Linked DNA regions of Homo sapiens. The protein of the gene in region 1 interacts with the protein of each later gene in a biochemical or structural test. Each region holds a gene or a part of one and is shown on either strand. Other genes may lie near its edges.

What was found. The genes of interacting proteins can lie anywhere in the genome.
Region 2: of the proteins of MMP13 (region 1) and BCAN, one has a biochemical effect on the other in vitro, tested with the Homo sapiens proteins (one study listed by BioGRID).

The regions. Positions count from the first base shown.
Region 1 is NC_000011.10:102,952,612-102,959,645, forward strand, and holds the start of MMP13 (collagenase 3 preproprotein), read right to left. Parts: upstream 3,122-7,034; 5' UTR 3,095-3,121; coding exon 2,975-3,094; intron 2,883-2,974; coding exon 2,641-2,882; intron 1,996-2,640; coding exon 1,847-1,995; intron 1,671-1,846; coding exon 1,545-1,670; intron 1-1,544. UniProt on the Homo sapiens protein: Plays a role in the degradation of extracellular matrix proteins including fibrillar collagen, fibronectin, TNC and ACAN.
Region 2 is NC_000001.11:156,652,117-156,659,116, reverse strand, and holds part of BCAN (brevican core protein isoform 1 precursor), read right to left. Parts: intron 6,870-7,000; coding exon 6,225-6,869; coding exon of another isoform or gene 6,151-6,224; exon of another isoform or gene 5,645-6,150; intron 2,836-5,644; coding exon 2,728-2,835; intron 2,180-2,727; coding exon 2,021-2,179; intron 1,443-2,020; coding exon 1,360-1,442; intron 991-1,359; coding exon 846-990; intron 575-845; coding exon 384-574; intron 91-383; coding exon 1-90. UniProt on the Homo sapiens protein: May play a role in the terminally differentiating and the adult nervous system during postnatal development. Could stabilize interactions between hyaluronan (HA) and brain proteoglycans.

The sequences.
Region 1 (7,034 bases):
CATCCAAAGGGATGGTACCAAGGATGGAGGATGCACTAAATAGGTTCTCTGTGTTTACTCTTGGGAGCAAATTCCAACCAAATGATTTTTTCCAGAATGTCTCTAGACTCTGGGTTCTGGAGAAACAGAAACTCTAGACATGATTAGCCATCTTTTCTCTACTCTAGAAGACTACTATGTCACTGTATTTACATTGTTCCCTCTAAGCATTCTGTCTGCCAATTTTGAGCCTCCTAATGCAGGTATTTCAAACTGGAAAAAAGAAAATAAAAAACTAAAAGAAAAATAAGAAGTGCAAGGCAATAGGATTGTTGTTACCTGTGCTTAGATTACCTGAAAACTAGAGCCAGTGGATTCCATTTGACCTTAAATACCCTCTGCTATTGTAGCCTGTGCATGAAGAAAATGAACCATCCTAGCAAACCTTGCAGACCATGAGAGCAATTAGAGGTCACATAATCTGAGTGTTAACTAATTCTTCACTGAATGACTAGTAATGGATACCCCTCTTGGCCTTCCACTGAAAAATGAATCCAGACTTGTTTGTGGATGTTTTTATTCACTTCAATTAAATATTTCAAACCCAGAATTTATAAAGGAACCTAAATTTGAGGCTTACTGTGATTCTACCTTAACAATGCTGGATATTATTTCTTCTTCCTGAAACCATTCTTACCTGTGAAATACCCAGAACATAAATATGTAAATTTTCACTTTTCCCTCCATAGACAGATTGGAGGTATTAGATTTGAGACACTGATCATGTAAGGCCCAGTTTTATTCTTTGGAGAAATAATCTTTTTTATTTAAATGAAAAATAAAACTCAGCTGTCTATGAAGACAACATCTACTTGTCATAACTAAGTCCTAGTTAGAACAATCTATGGCTTTTCTTCCTAAGTTAACATTCCCAATTATTTTGAGACTTGAAGATTTAACTACTAACTGATCTCATTCAACATTCAGTTTCATTTTGCTCTTGTAAATACAACCATCATCTTGTCTGTTTCATGCTGTTTGGAGTAAGAGTCTGTCTAGGTTTTTAAGAATAGTGTTTACAATATATAGACAAGACTGAATCAAGCAACTCATATAATGGGAAACAGAAATTTGATTGAACATATTTCTACCAAGCAAAAAACTATTTCAATTCACATCTAATTCATGTATGACCCATAGATCCAGCCCTGGTAGTTTTTAGTTAGATATTTCTAATAAACTGTACTTCCTCAACATGCCAAAAGGTAATTTGCAGTAATAACATGTTGGCTGACAGACATAAACATTTTGGTCCTACTTCAAAGTTCATTAGTATCCCTCAAGCCACAGTGACAGATTAAGTAGATTTTGTTCATTTTTTAATGTTGATATCAATTTGTAGAAATGTCACTTGTAGAGACACTAATACATCTAAGATAAACTTTATTTAAGAAAATATAGTCAAATACCAAATATATTTAACTTTTATGTGTTTTAACTTCATACTAGTGTGTTCACTGTCTAATCTAATAACACATAAATGATATCTTTATAAGAAACATTACCTTTGGAACTACTTGTCCAGGTTTCATCATCATCAAAATGGGCATCTCCTCCATAATTTGGCCCAGGAGGAAAAGCATGAGCCAGCAGGCCAGAGGGCCCATCAAATGGGTAGAAGTCGCCATGCTCTACACACAAAAGCAAGGGTTAGGAGTCTTATCACATCCAGGAGTACTTAGCACAGGTGTTTGGTAAATTAGTGTTGAATTCTTTAAAAAGTAATGAATGACTGAAATAAATAATTTTAAAATGGAACCAAGAATTAGAATATAAAAATGTTTGTAAAATAAATGTGCATCATTACCCTTAATTCCAAAAGAGATCATGATGTCAGCAATGCCATCGTGAAGTCTGGTAAAATTCAGAGGAGTTACATCGGACCAAACTTTGAAGGCTTTTTTGAATGCCTTTTCGACTTCAGAATGAGTCATATCAGGGGTGTAATTCACAATTCTATTTAACAGAGAAAGTTTCAATGAACTTTTTGGAAAGTGACAGCTATTTTAGAATACATTTTCTTGGTATATTGCTTTTCAATTCAAAATGCAATAATTTCTTTGAAAGTTCTACTAGAGGTTTATTGTTTCAAATAATGTATTAATTATGATGCCATACAAGAATAAAAAGTCAAAAATTCAGCCACATTTGAGTATCTCCAAATATCTGACCATGTGGCATCTTAAATTTAAAATATTCCAATGTTTAATATAATTTATTTTGCATGCTAAAAGTTTAGATTACATTGATAAAGCTCAAATAAATGAAATAGCTCTGTAAAGTTTCTAGAAAGAGTGGAACTCTTCATCTTGAGCACTGTTGTAATAAATACACCTAATGTACTATGTTTGCAAATTTTCTTTAACCTACTTTTATTTCTCTTTTGATTTCATCTCTAAAAGAAATACTTTGAGATGCCCACTAAAAAATAATGCTGAGTTAATGTAACAATAATAGATGTTATGAGGTATTCTCGGCAACCATATTAAAGCTATTCTGGAATTTAACTGCCAATTAAATAATAAGGCCTACTTAATATTAGACATTTAATACTACAAGAAAAGGCTAACAAATATGAAAGAAAGATAGCCTATGATTTACCTGTAGGTTAAATTCATTTTGGACCATTTAAGAGTTCGAGGGAAAACATTGTATTCACCCACATCAGGAACCCCGCATCTTGGCTTTTTCATGACATCTAAGGTGTTATCGTCAAGTTTGCCAGTCACCTCTAAGCCGAAGAAAGACTGCATTTCTCGGAGCCTCTCAGTCATGGAGCTTGCTGCATTCTCCTTCAGGATTCCCGCGAGATTTGTAGGATGGTAGTATGATCTCAGGTAGCGCTAGAAAAGACACCAAAATGAACTGCGTTTAAAAGAGAAGGACATTTCTGAGATGTACCAACCGCATCATCAGGATTGGCAAGATACTCTACCTCTGCAAACTGGAGGTCTTCCTCAGACAAATCATCTTCATCACCACCACTGGGAAGGGGCAGGGCCCGACAATGAGTCCAGCTCAAGAAGAGGAAGGCAGCCAGGACCCCTGGATGCATCTTGAATGGTGATGCCTGGGGACTGTTGTCTTTCCGCAGAGATTACCTTTACTTTTATAGGCCTGCAATGGTGAGTCATCACTTATGGATAGGTTTCCACTTCCCAGTCACTTGAAGGTAAACATGCTTACGTGGCGACTTTTTCTTTTCCCTCCCGAGTGTGGTTTGTGGTAGAATTTGAGGGAAATATAAATGAGAGCATCTCTTGTTTCAGCAGGGTCTCAAAACCCATCTGGCAAAATAAACGGCCTCAGCATATTTATGGATACTGTGGGAAGAAGCAGAGAGTAGTACATTTTTTACTTCACTTAGCAAAATTTTTTTTTTTTTGCCTTCTGTAAGAACGTATCTACTTTTGCTTCTTCGAATAATAAGTGTATCAAGATGGCATGTTTACTTCCATAAAGAGAAACTTAGTACTGATTCTAGAATGTTTACTACTGCCTGGTAAATTATAAACTGCATTTTCTCTAGAATAACTACAGAGAGATGTCTTGTGTCTACCTGAAGTTCACGATATTGGACCAAAACCAAGCTTGATGACTTGGAGGTGCTACGGCACAACCGCAGGATTGAGCCCCATGGTTGGAATTTAAACACACTGGCATGACCTCTCGACAAATATGGAGTCCTGCATAAATTCCCTACAGATTCAGACAGAGGTAGAAGAATTACATTGGAACGGAACAACTGTAATGGCTAGCACAAACAGGGATTACTGCATTCTAGGTTTAAAAGGCATTATCTCATTTAATCCTTACAACAGCCACATAGGTGCTGTCAGAAAGCTTGTTTTCCATTTTACATATGAATAATCTGATACACTGAGAAGTTAAATACTTGTATACGGTCATATAGTTTATAAATGATACCAGGATTTGAACCTAGGCCAATAACTCAAAACTCAATGTTCTTGACCACCGTCCCTGTCTAATTATGACCTCCACCCTTTCCATTCTCAGATATTTTCTTAAAAGCTGAGCTGTTTGGTTCCTACACCTCAGGGAGTGCCCAAGAAAACTAGGGCTGCAGTAGGCCAATTTCAAGTTTCTCAATTTTTAAGTTTGAATAATAGAAGTAATCTTGGTCCAACCATCAGGAAAATAGTCCTAGGGGCCTCTACCCTATTATTCCTTTCAGAACATCACACATTCAGTACCGTGAAATCAAAGTGCCATCTTTGGTCCCCTGCAGAAGTAAATGGGTAGAGCAATATAGGCCATGATCTTTGGATTTATTGGACTTCTTTAAATAAATGATTGGAAATGCAGGTTAATTTGAGTGACTAAGAGTCAGAAAGAAAATGCTGCTCAGGTCAGGAACATAGTAAGACAAAGAGAAGGAGCATGAATACAGCTTTAGGGTGAGTACGAAATGGGTATCCTAACATATGAGTAAAATCCTATAATCTAGAGTAGCCAGTGCCTTAGAGAAAAATCAGAAAAGCCTACAACATGTATGTGATCATTTGAGGGAAATTTACTATATGCCTTTATCCAAACAAAATACAGCCAAATATACCCTTTCAAATAGATTGTTTCCAGTGAGTTCAAGATTAGATTGGTGCTCAATCAGGAATGCAAAGCAATAATTTATTTTAAGTTGCTTCCATGTATCATAATATTTAATTTTGAGATTAAGTGAAAAATTATCCAAAAAAGTTTGATTCATCGACTAAGCTTATAAAAGTTAGTTTATTAGAAAGCATTTGTTTTTACAAATAAATTTTCATAATATATTAAAATCTCATTAGATAAGAAGTGCTTAAGAAGCTGGAAAACAAATAACATTTTATTAAACATTTGAAAGTGGAGAAAAAGAATCAAATAGGCTAACTGTTCTTATAGATTTTCACATATTTGTAGAAATGTTACTACTTCAAACTAGAAGAAAAGAAGCTTTTTTATCTATCAATTTAATGAATATATTAATTGAGCATCAACCATATAGGATACCATGCTAGTGTCTATGGAAATGAAATGAAGGCTAAAATGAGGGCCTTTTTCTGAGGATCATTACAATATTACCTCCCCCATTAAAAAAAACATTTTTAATAACAAATGAAAATAAATACATGCCACTATTTTTCAACTTTAAAAATAAAGTTTATTATCAAACAACTTTAGTATTTTACTAGTTTCTCATTCCATTTAAGAACATAATCAGCGCAAAAGAAAAAACACAGAAAGGTTAATGAGAACATATTATTATATGTTCTGTAGTTTTCTTAAGTAGAAATAAATAAAAATTCCTCCAAAGATTAAAATACATTAATTCATTAAGAAAATAATCAGACTGCTCGTTTATAGAATATTGTTCAGGGAAAAGTGTTTTTAGATGGTGATAGGGATGTGTCATCACATCATAATGTGTTGGCAAACTGCTTGTCAACGCAAGTCCTTATATCAGGTTGTTAACTGTTAAAGTCAAGCCTTCTGGTTACCACTGTGAAATGATTTGTGGTTTCAGATGTCATCTTTAACACAATAGGGCTGAGCTGGTATTTAAAAATGGTTCTAACAAGTCTACCAAATCACTGGGAAATTTGAAAACCTGTAGAATGAACAAACAAAACTGGACTAAATTAGAATTATGTATTTACTGCTGATTCAGACATTAGCAATATGGGACTTTTTAAAACATAGGTCATCATCAGTTTTCAAGTTCAAAACGTCACCCAAACAGGAACGAAAAATGTCTATGAACAGCCAGATACTAAATCACAGAGGGGTCCCAGACTAGGAATAACATGAACAATTGGCCATTTGAGTTAGATTAAAATTATGAAAAATCTTTAAGTAAAAGAACGATTAAGATCAAGATTTTGGCTTCAGTTTAGAGTATAGTAAAAACTCATTGTCGATGACACTTAGCGGTGTGTTTATTTTTCTAAAATGTAAGTGATTTGACTCTGCAAGTGCACGAAGTAATAATTTTTTGTAAACACTCTCTGATGGTTGCTTAGTTCTACCTTCCGATTTCTCTTTTTTTTTCATAACCTCATGAGCTGGGCTTACATGGTCTTAAAAAGGAGAACTAGCTGGGCATAGGGCATGTCTATAGTCCCAGCTACTCAGGAGGCTGAGGTTGGAGGATTGCTTGAGCCCAGGGGTGAAGTTTGAGGACAGCCTAGGGCAGACAGGGAGGCGCCATTAAAAAAAAAAAAAAAGGAAAGCTAGATTTCTTCTAAATTTGAATTTAAACACTACTTTTGTGCAGTCATGGCATCATCCACAGGTGTGGAACAAAACAAAGAAGAGCTCATTTTACATGCTGTGGCTACAAAGCAAAGGTTGAGTAACTTAGGAGGTCATTTACTTTTAACATTTGAATGATATGCTCTTCAGAGATGCCATACTCATACTGGGTTGATCCACAAAAGTTACTAAAAGAATTTACAAGAAGTAAAATAAATTATTTTTGGTTCTTACTGGAGTATAACATCTGAAAGTCAAGTCCTAATTTCCTGGGCTCCCCTCCTAAAGAATTTTATTTTTTTGTGTGTTTGGTTGAAAAAGAGTGGTTACTGAATGTCCACCTTGGCCAGATTTAACCAAATACTCTAAGAGAAAACAACTGGGAATAGAACACACATTCTAGCCCAACCCTTCCCAAATGTCTTTGAAAAAGGAAAAATCTAGATTGCTTGGTAGTGAATAATAGAAATAAAAACAAGTTAGGAAAATGGAGAAATGCTTTAGTGGTTTTAACAACAAGCAATTTTATTACATTTAAAGATTCCTAATGTTTAAACAATGAGGCAAAGGTCTATTTTTAAACAACTTAGTCTCACCTTGTTACCTTAATTCACTAAAGTGGAAGCCATTACATATTTTTTAAAAAGCAGATTATCTGATAAAAAGCAATACACAAAAACAGAATGTAATGTTATTACATAATGTTTGGGAAATAAAAACTTTTCTCAGAAGAAAAAAATTAT
Region 2 (7,000 bases), on another chromosome or scaffold:
GCTGGAAGGGGGGATCAACAGCGCCTTCCAGCGTCCCAGTAGCCTCCCCTGACGTCCTTCTGGGTCCTCCTCTGGGTGCAGAGCTCGGGCCTGGGGAAGACACACACTCACCCTCCACCCTGGCTCTTCCTTCTCCTCTCCTCAGAGCCTGCCCTCTGATGTTCTTGCTCAGCCCGTAAGAGCCCAGAATGGGGCTGCATGTTATCAGACATCAGCACTGAAGGAACCCCAGAGCCTCCAGCCCACCTCTTCCCCTTTGCCTCAGAGAGGGGCAGTGATGGCTCCAAGGTCACATGGCCAGTGACAGGCAGGACTTTAAGTGGAGTCCAAGGCTACTGTTGGCTACTGTCTCCCACTCCCACCTGCCTCTTCCTGGCACTCACAGGTCTTCTGGGCACACAGGAGATCTGGGGGGCCTCCCAACGACCGTTCTCTTGGCATCGGATCAGCGGCAGATTGCGCTGGGCCAGTCCTTCCCGGCACCGGTAGCGAAGCACAGTGTCCACCTCATAGCGCAGCCGTGGGCGGCCGAACACTTGAGCCAGGGGCAGCTCCGGTGGCGGCCCACAGGACACTGCAAAGGAAGACAGTTAGGAACTGAGCCTGGCTCTGTGGGTGACAGTTCCCAGAATCTCCATGGGGAAGAGAAAAATGGGCCACAACATGACAAAAAAAGATCAGGGATTCCGAGTGGACCCACGTAACTTGTTAGCTCTCCCATGGTCTGGAACACGTTCTGACTCCTCTATGTTGCTTTGCACTCTCTGTCTACAAACATCAGTCCCTCTGGTCCCCTAGCCCACCCCTCCACTTCCTTGCTGGGACCCTCCTTTGCCTGCCCTCACCCAGCCCCATCTTGCAGGTGTAGGACAGGTGGTAGTTGCAGGGCACGTCACTCCATTGTCCCTGATCATGCCACACCATGACCACGCAGTTCTCTCCAGACAGGAAGTAGCTGTCAGGCTGCCCAGGGTTCCAGTTCTCATAGAGCTGGGGGAACGGAGGAGGTGGTGAGGAGCTCCTACACCAGGAGCACCGGGAGAGGGCCTAGAGGATCTGGGGAGGAGGGCTGGTGAGCGGGGCCCCAGGAGAGGGAAGGTTAGGGCTAGGGGGTAGGGGATCTCCCGGGGAAGGGGAAAGGAGAGGGCAGGGACTTTAGGGGAGGGAGAATGGGAGCCAGAAGGGAAGAAAGAGGACACAACGAAGGGAGGAGAGCCCAGGGAGAAGAGGCACAGGGCACGAGAAAGGGAAGGAGGCCGGAAAAAGAAGGGGACAGGGTCGGGAGGGGTGGGGGTGGTAGGGAACAGAAGTGCTTAGAGGAAGTGAGCTAGACGGCGGGGTTCGACTGGGGCCTCTCACCAGGGGGACGCCATCCGACCACAAGAAGTCGCCTTCGATGGTCCTGTCGTTGAGTCCGATCCACTGGTACTCCCGGTACCGGTCTAGGGAGACGAAGGCGTGCAGTGAGCGCAGCCGCCAGCAGATGGCGGCCGTTCCCCGCTCCCGGGCGGTCTGCGGTGACTGCCTTGGAAACCCTTCCCCGCGATCCAGCACCCGCCCTTGTCGGGTTCTTCTACCCCAGCCTCTGCTCAAGGGCCAGATGGAAAGCAGGGGAATGGGGGTGGGAGAATAAGGAAGATATCAACCCAGGCTAGAAAAGGGGAGTTTTGGAAAAAGAGTCAAAACTTTCAACAAGATTGGAGTTGGAGTTGGAGGAGGCCGACGGAGGTCGGAGAGCAGGGAGGTTGGAGGGATTGGAGGCGGCCCCCTGCACGGCGGCCCGGCCCACACAGGCGCACTCTACTGCGCGAACCTCCACTCTCCGTTCCCGAAGGCCACTGCCTAAGCGTAGGGTGGGAAGGGAGAGAGAATGAGAAGGGGAGTGAACGAATGAGTGAGGGAATGCACGCTTGAGAAAACCAAGGAATAAGTGCATGGGTTAATGAGGAAGGCGGTTAGGCGAGTGAGAGAGAGTGAGAGCATATGGCAGGGGCCCCTCCCGCCCTGTCTCCCAGCCCACTGTTGATGAAGTCCTGTTCCTCGGGTGTGCTGATGCTGGCCAGATGCGCGCCGTACATCCGGCACTGGGTCTCTGCCTCCTCCCAGCTCCTTCGTGTGGAAAAGTGCTTGTAGCAGGCGCCCTGGAAGGCGTCCCAGCCGGGGTTGCAGAAGCGGAGGCCTGCGGCACATAAGGGCGGGCATCTTAGGGCCCCAAAACCCAGAGGGCCAGGTCCCCTGGAAGGGGCTGGTCTCCTTCCACTACCGCAGGCCGAGAGGGGCGGGACTAAGGGGGACAGGAGGGCGGTGCAAAAGAGCTAGTAGAGAATGAGGGGGTAGCAGGAGCCTGGAGGGGCTCTTGGGCAGGGGCGCTGGTGCCTTTTCTAAGAGACAGGAACCAGGGTGAGGGATGGAGTTCCGGCCTGGGTCTCCATCCTAACGAGCAGTGGCTCTCCTCTCCAGGAGAATGGAGCCTGTCATGTATTGACCACCGATTAAATGCCAGGAGTATGCTTTGCACTGGTCTCAAATGGACCCCCTATGAGAGGCATTGTGGTTTCACTTAGATAAGAAAATTGAGGGTAGGACTCAAAGAAGTTATGCAACTTGCCTAAAACAGGGACTCATTAATGACAAGGCCAAAACCAATGTTCTCCCTCCCCCCTCCAGAAGTAGCACGTTGTGGCAGGGTCCAGGCTTCAAACCTGCCCCCCGTCCCTCAACACTCACCAACATCGCACAGGTCCCCCCCATAGCCAGGCAGACATAGGCAGCGGACCCCTTCCTCCTCCTCCAAGCATGTCCCACCATTGTGGCAGGGGCTGGGGACACAGTCACCTGAGAGGGGGAAAGAAGTGAGGCGGGGGGAGCGAGGCAGCCGCACTCTGCAGCCTGAGCCCTCCAGGAGAGGGTGCAGAGGGTCCCCCAGCCCTGGTCTCTCTGTCCTGGAAGCTATAACAGCACCCTAAAAGTTCTCCCTAGAGCCTGTCTCTGGTCACAACCCAGCCCTGAGTTCTGGGTTTCTTTCCTCTTCCCGCTCCCGACTTCAGCATTGGCTCAGCCTTCCATTGTTATGGCCACCAGTGTGAGCCCAGCCCAAAAGGGGCTGGGGAGAAGAGGCTAGGAGAGCCCTGAGAACCCAGCCCCACAATGGAGAAAGATACTGGGCACAGAAAGTTATAGCTCTAAACTCTTATCTGGCTTCTGTGTGATATTGGGCAGGTCATTTTCCTTCTCTAGGCTTGGAGTTTAGTGCCACACCCCCTTGTCTTTGTGCCAGGTCCCAGCACAGTTCTGTATAGTCCAGGTGGAATGAATGGAAGTGAAGGAGGGGACAGAAGGATTACCGCAGCAACAGTGGAGGGTGGTATCCCTTGACTGCTCCTGAGACCTGATATTGGTGTGGTCCAGGTGAATACTAACCATTCCTCCTGCTGTCCACTGGGCAGTCAGCCAGTCCCAGAAGTGGTTAGTGGAGATCCAGCCCACTTTCCTCACTCTAGGCCCTGCCCCTTCTCCCCCAGCTTAGGAACTAAGTCGCAGCAGCTCCCATTGTCCTGCAGTGCTGACTGGCCTCACACATGCAGCTTTCTCTCAATATCACCCAACCTCTCACTTCCCCTTCTTATATCCACAGACTCTTCCACTTACCAGGCTCCCTCTCCCAACTCCACTTTGGGCCTTCTGCAGGTTCTCCAACCTAGAATCCATCTCAATCCCTCCTTCTGGCTCCCTCTCCTCCAGGCAGTCCTCTTAGACTAACACACTGCCCTGAAGGTCTGCAATCTGTTGCCTGGATCTAGCTCCATCTGGCTAGGCCATCTGCTTTACTGGACTTTTTCTCTCTGTATCCTGGGGTAGGAGGTGGCTGTCCTTAGGATGTGCTTGGGTGCTACAGGAGCTGTCAGTTTCCAATCCTTTCTGGTTCAGATGACCCAAAGGAAGATGGCTCCACAGACCAACTGTGTAGGTCATGGCCCTCAGCCATGGTAAGGTCAAGGCCCTCAGCCATGAGAGGCAAAACCACTCCAGGGCAGAACCCTTCAGACTTTACCATCCACCTCTAGAAGCCATGGCCAAGGTCCACAGTGCTTCCCGCTGGCCTGGCCACAGGTCCCACTGCCTGGTGGGAATCAGTAGGGGTGGAGAGAGGAGAAGCTGGAGTGGATTCAAAGAATTTTGCTGGGATGACCTAGCTGTTTTGGGTGAAATGAATCAGCTTTTCCAGCAGCACTCCTTCTGTCATCTTCCCTCCTGCCAATAGTTTCTTCCCAGCTTGTGGTGCTGCCCACCTCCCAACCCCAGAGGAAGAGGTATTTCATTTAACCCATTAAGCACCAGGCCCCACAGAGGGTAGAATTCTGAACTCCCCTCCCACTCCTCACACTTTCCTGTCCCTCCTGTTGTCCTTTCTGCTCCTTCCCATTCAACCCTCCAACCCTGGGGGACAGAGGCTCTCAAACTTGGTCTTTGGTCCCCTACCCAAGCCATAGGCCCCTCCCCCTGGCTGTGGGCTACAGAACCTGAACCCAGCGCAGGCAGAGTCGGGTGAAGAACTCTTCTTCTTGTCATTTTCCCTCTCCCTTTTTGGGGACAACTATTCTACACAACCAGAAAGTTTTCCCTTTCTTTCCATTGAAACAGCAGCCAAGGAGACCTCTCACTTACCCTCCCGGTGGGGAAACTAAGACACTGTAGATACCTCCAATTGTGCTCCTCTTCCCACCAAACCCCCTCCCTATCCCCCACAGGGCTGAACTCCAAGGCCAGTTGTGCAGGGACCTAACAGTTGACATGGGTAAGCCTGGGTGGGACTCAGGATGTGATCCATCTAACATGGGGGTCCTAGGGCTAAGGGAATCCCAGCCTTCTCCAGGAACCTCCACTGGGAATCTTAGCCTTCCTGAGTAGAGAGGGCTTCTCTCAGACCCCAGAACCTGATTCCTTCCTTCACACTCTCCATCACTTGCTTTTGATCAGTGTCTTCTCCAGCATTAGGTACTTTGAGACCCTTTGGGTCTGGGGAGGGTGAAGCCATTCCTTCTGGAGAGTAGGGAATGATCATTAGTGCAGGAGTTAGTGGAGAAGACGGAAGTTGTAGGTAGTGGGATGAGAGTTAGATACCACCCCCTGCTGAGATGCAGGGCTAGGGGATGGGGGTGAGGGCAACTGAATGCCAGGGAACTGCCTCTATGCTGAGAGACCCTCAGTTCCCTCAGTTACTATGACCCTTGGCACCACCAAGATGGATTGGAAGTGAATATAAATGCACAACACATGCACTCCGGGCTGCAGGGGTTTCTCCTCATCAGGAGTGAGGGACTACAACTCCCAGCACTGCCTCAGACTATGGATGATGACTTCTCCAGGGGTAATGTGTACAGTCAAATTTTGGGATCTTAGCAGCCAGGAAGGAAAGTGTAGACAGGCCTGAGAAGGAGAGGCTGGGGGAACAATGAGGGGCTGTTAGACTGCCAGGACAGACAAGGGGAGAAGCCGAAAATGAAAAAGGAAGAGAGGCCAAGACACACACAGAGACAGGGAGAGACATGGAGCCAGAGAAGAAGCATCCAAGTGCTCCCCATGACACAGACCCATGGAATGAGAGAGGTGGACAGCAGGAGATGGAGACAGAGGGTACCAGAGCTTGGTTACAAAGCGGTTTAATAGAGATTTATTTCCAAGGCTTGTTTTCCATGAAACAGTCAAAAAATACTTCACAGAAGTAGTTGCTTAAGGCTCTGTGGGGGTACGGGTTCTCCTGGACTCCGGAGGTTGAGGGGTGAGAAGGGACTCCCAGGCTTCCCTGAGATCAATAGGAGGCAGCTAAAGGGGACGGCACACAGGCGGATGAAGGGAGTAGTGGAAAATAGGCCGAGCCCTGAAGGCTGCAATAGGTGATGAGGACCCTTGGAGAGGCCTGAGGATGCTCTGTGGGGCTGGCGAGATGTGAGCCACAGGTGGAGGGCCCAATGGCAGGGAAGGGTCACAGATGGTCAGTGGCGGGGCTGGGATCACAGGGTAAAGACGCGGAGAGCTGAGATACCCACAAGGTGGATATCCGAGATTGGAGACCCATAGGTAGAGGTGGGTAAGAGAATGAAGGCAAAGGACAGGAGAGTTTGGGATGATGGTGGGTTAAAGGACTACAGGTCAGGTGACCCAGAGCTGCAGGGGGAAGAAAAGGAGTAGGATAGAGAGGGCAGTTGAGCCTTGGGCAGAATTACCTGATGCGGGGACCACGGCCACTCCACCTCGGCTGGCGCTGTCAGTGGGCAGCACTGGCTGGGCCTGCACTGAGGTCCCTGCTGGGGCAGTTCTTCCAGAATTATCTTCAGAGGGGGCCTCCAGCTCCCTGGTACCCTCAGGGGCCCGTGTGGCTGGAAGCAGGGAAGGGGCACCCTCGGAGCTTCCTGTCTCCTCGCTCTCTCCTCGAGGGACCCCAGATAGCTCAGGACCACCAGTTGCCTCCCCCACCTCTCTTGCCTCAACCAGAGTGGAAGGTGATGGGGATGCTAGGTTCCTCTCCCTGGGAGTGGGCAGAGTCTCAGTAGGTGGTCCATGGACCCTTGGAGGCCTGGAAGCTTCTGACTCTCCATCAGGAAGTGGTGATGCACCAGGCTGCAGGACTGCCCTTGCTGGCGCCTGGGAGAGTGACTCCTCCTGGGCTGCTGGCTCAGTGGGGAGAGAGGCCTCAGGGCCCGGGCTGCTGAGCTCGCTGGGCCATGCCCACAGAGCCTCATCCTCCACCTCCTCCTCTTCTTCTTCCTCCTCTTTCTCTTCTTCATCTTCATATTTCTCTTCTTCCTCCAATGCCTTACCTTCCTCTTCTGAGAACCCCGTGGGCGGTACCATGGATTGTGTTTCAAATTCTAGGCAAAGCACAAACGGTTCAGCACCAGGGACAGCGTCTGTCCAAGGACCGAAAGGAAAAAGGGAAGGGGAGAAAAGTAGGGCTCAGGAGGGTGAGCCCTGGGGAATAGGGAAGAGACCGCCCTGAGGA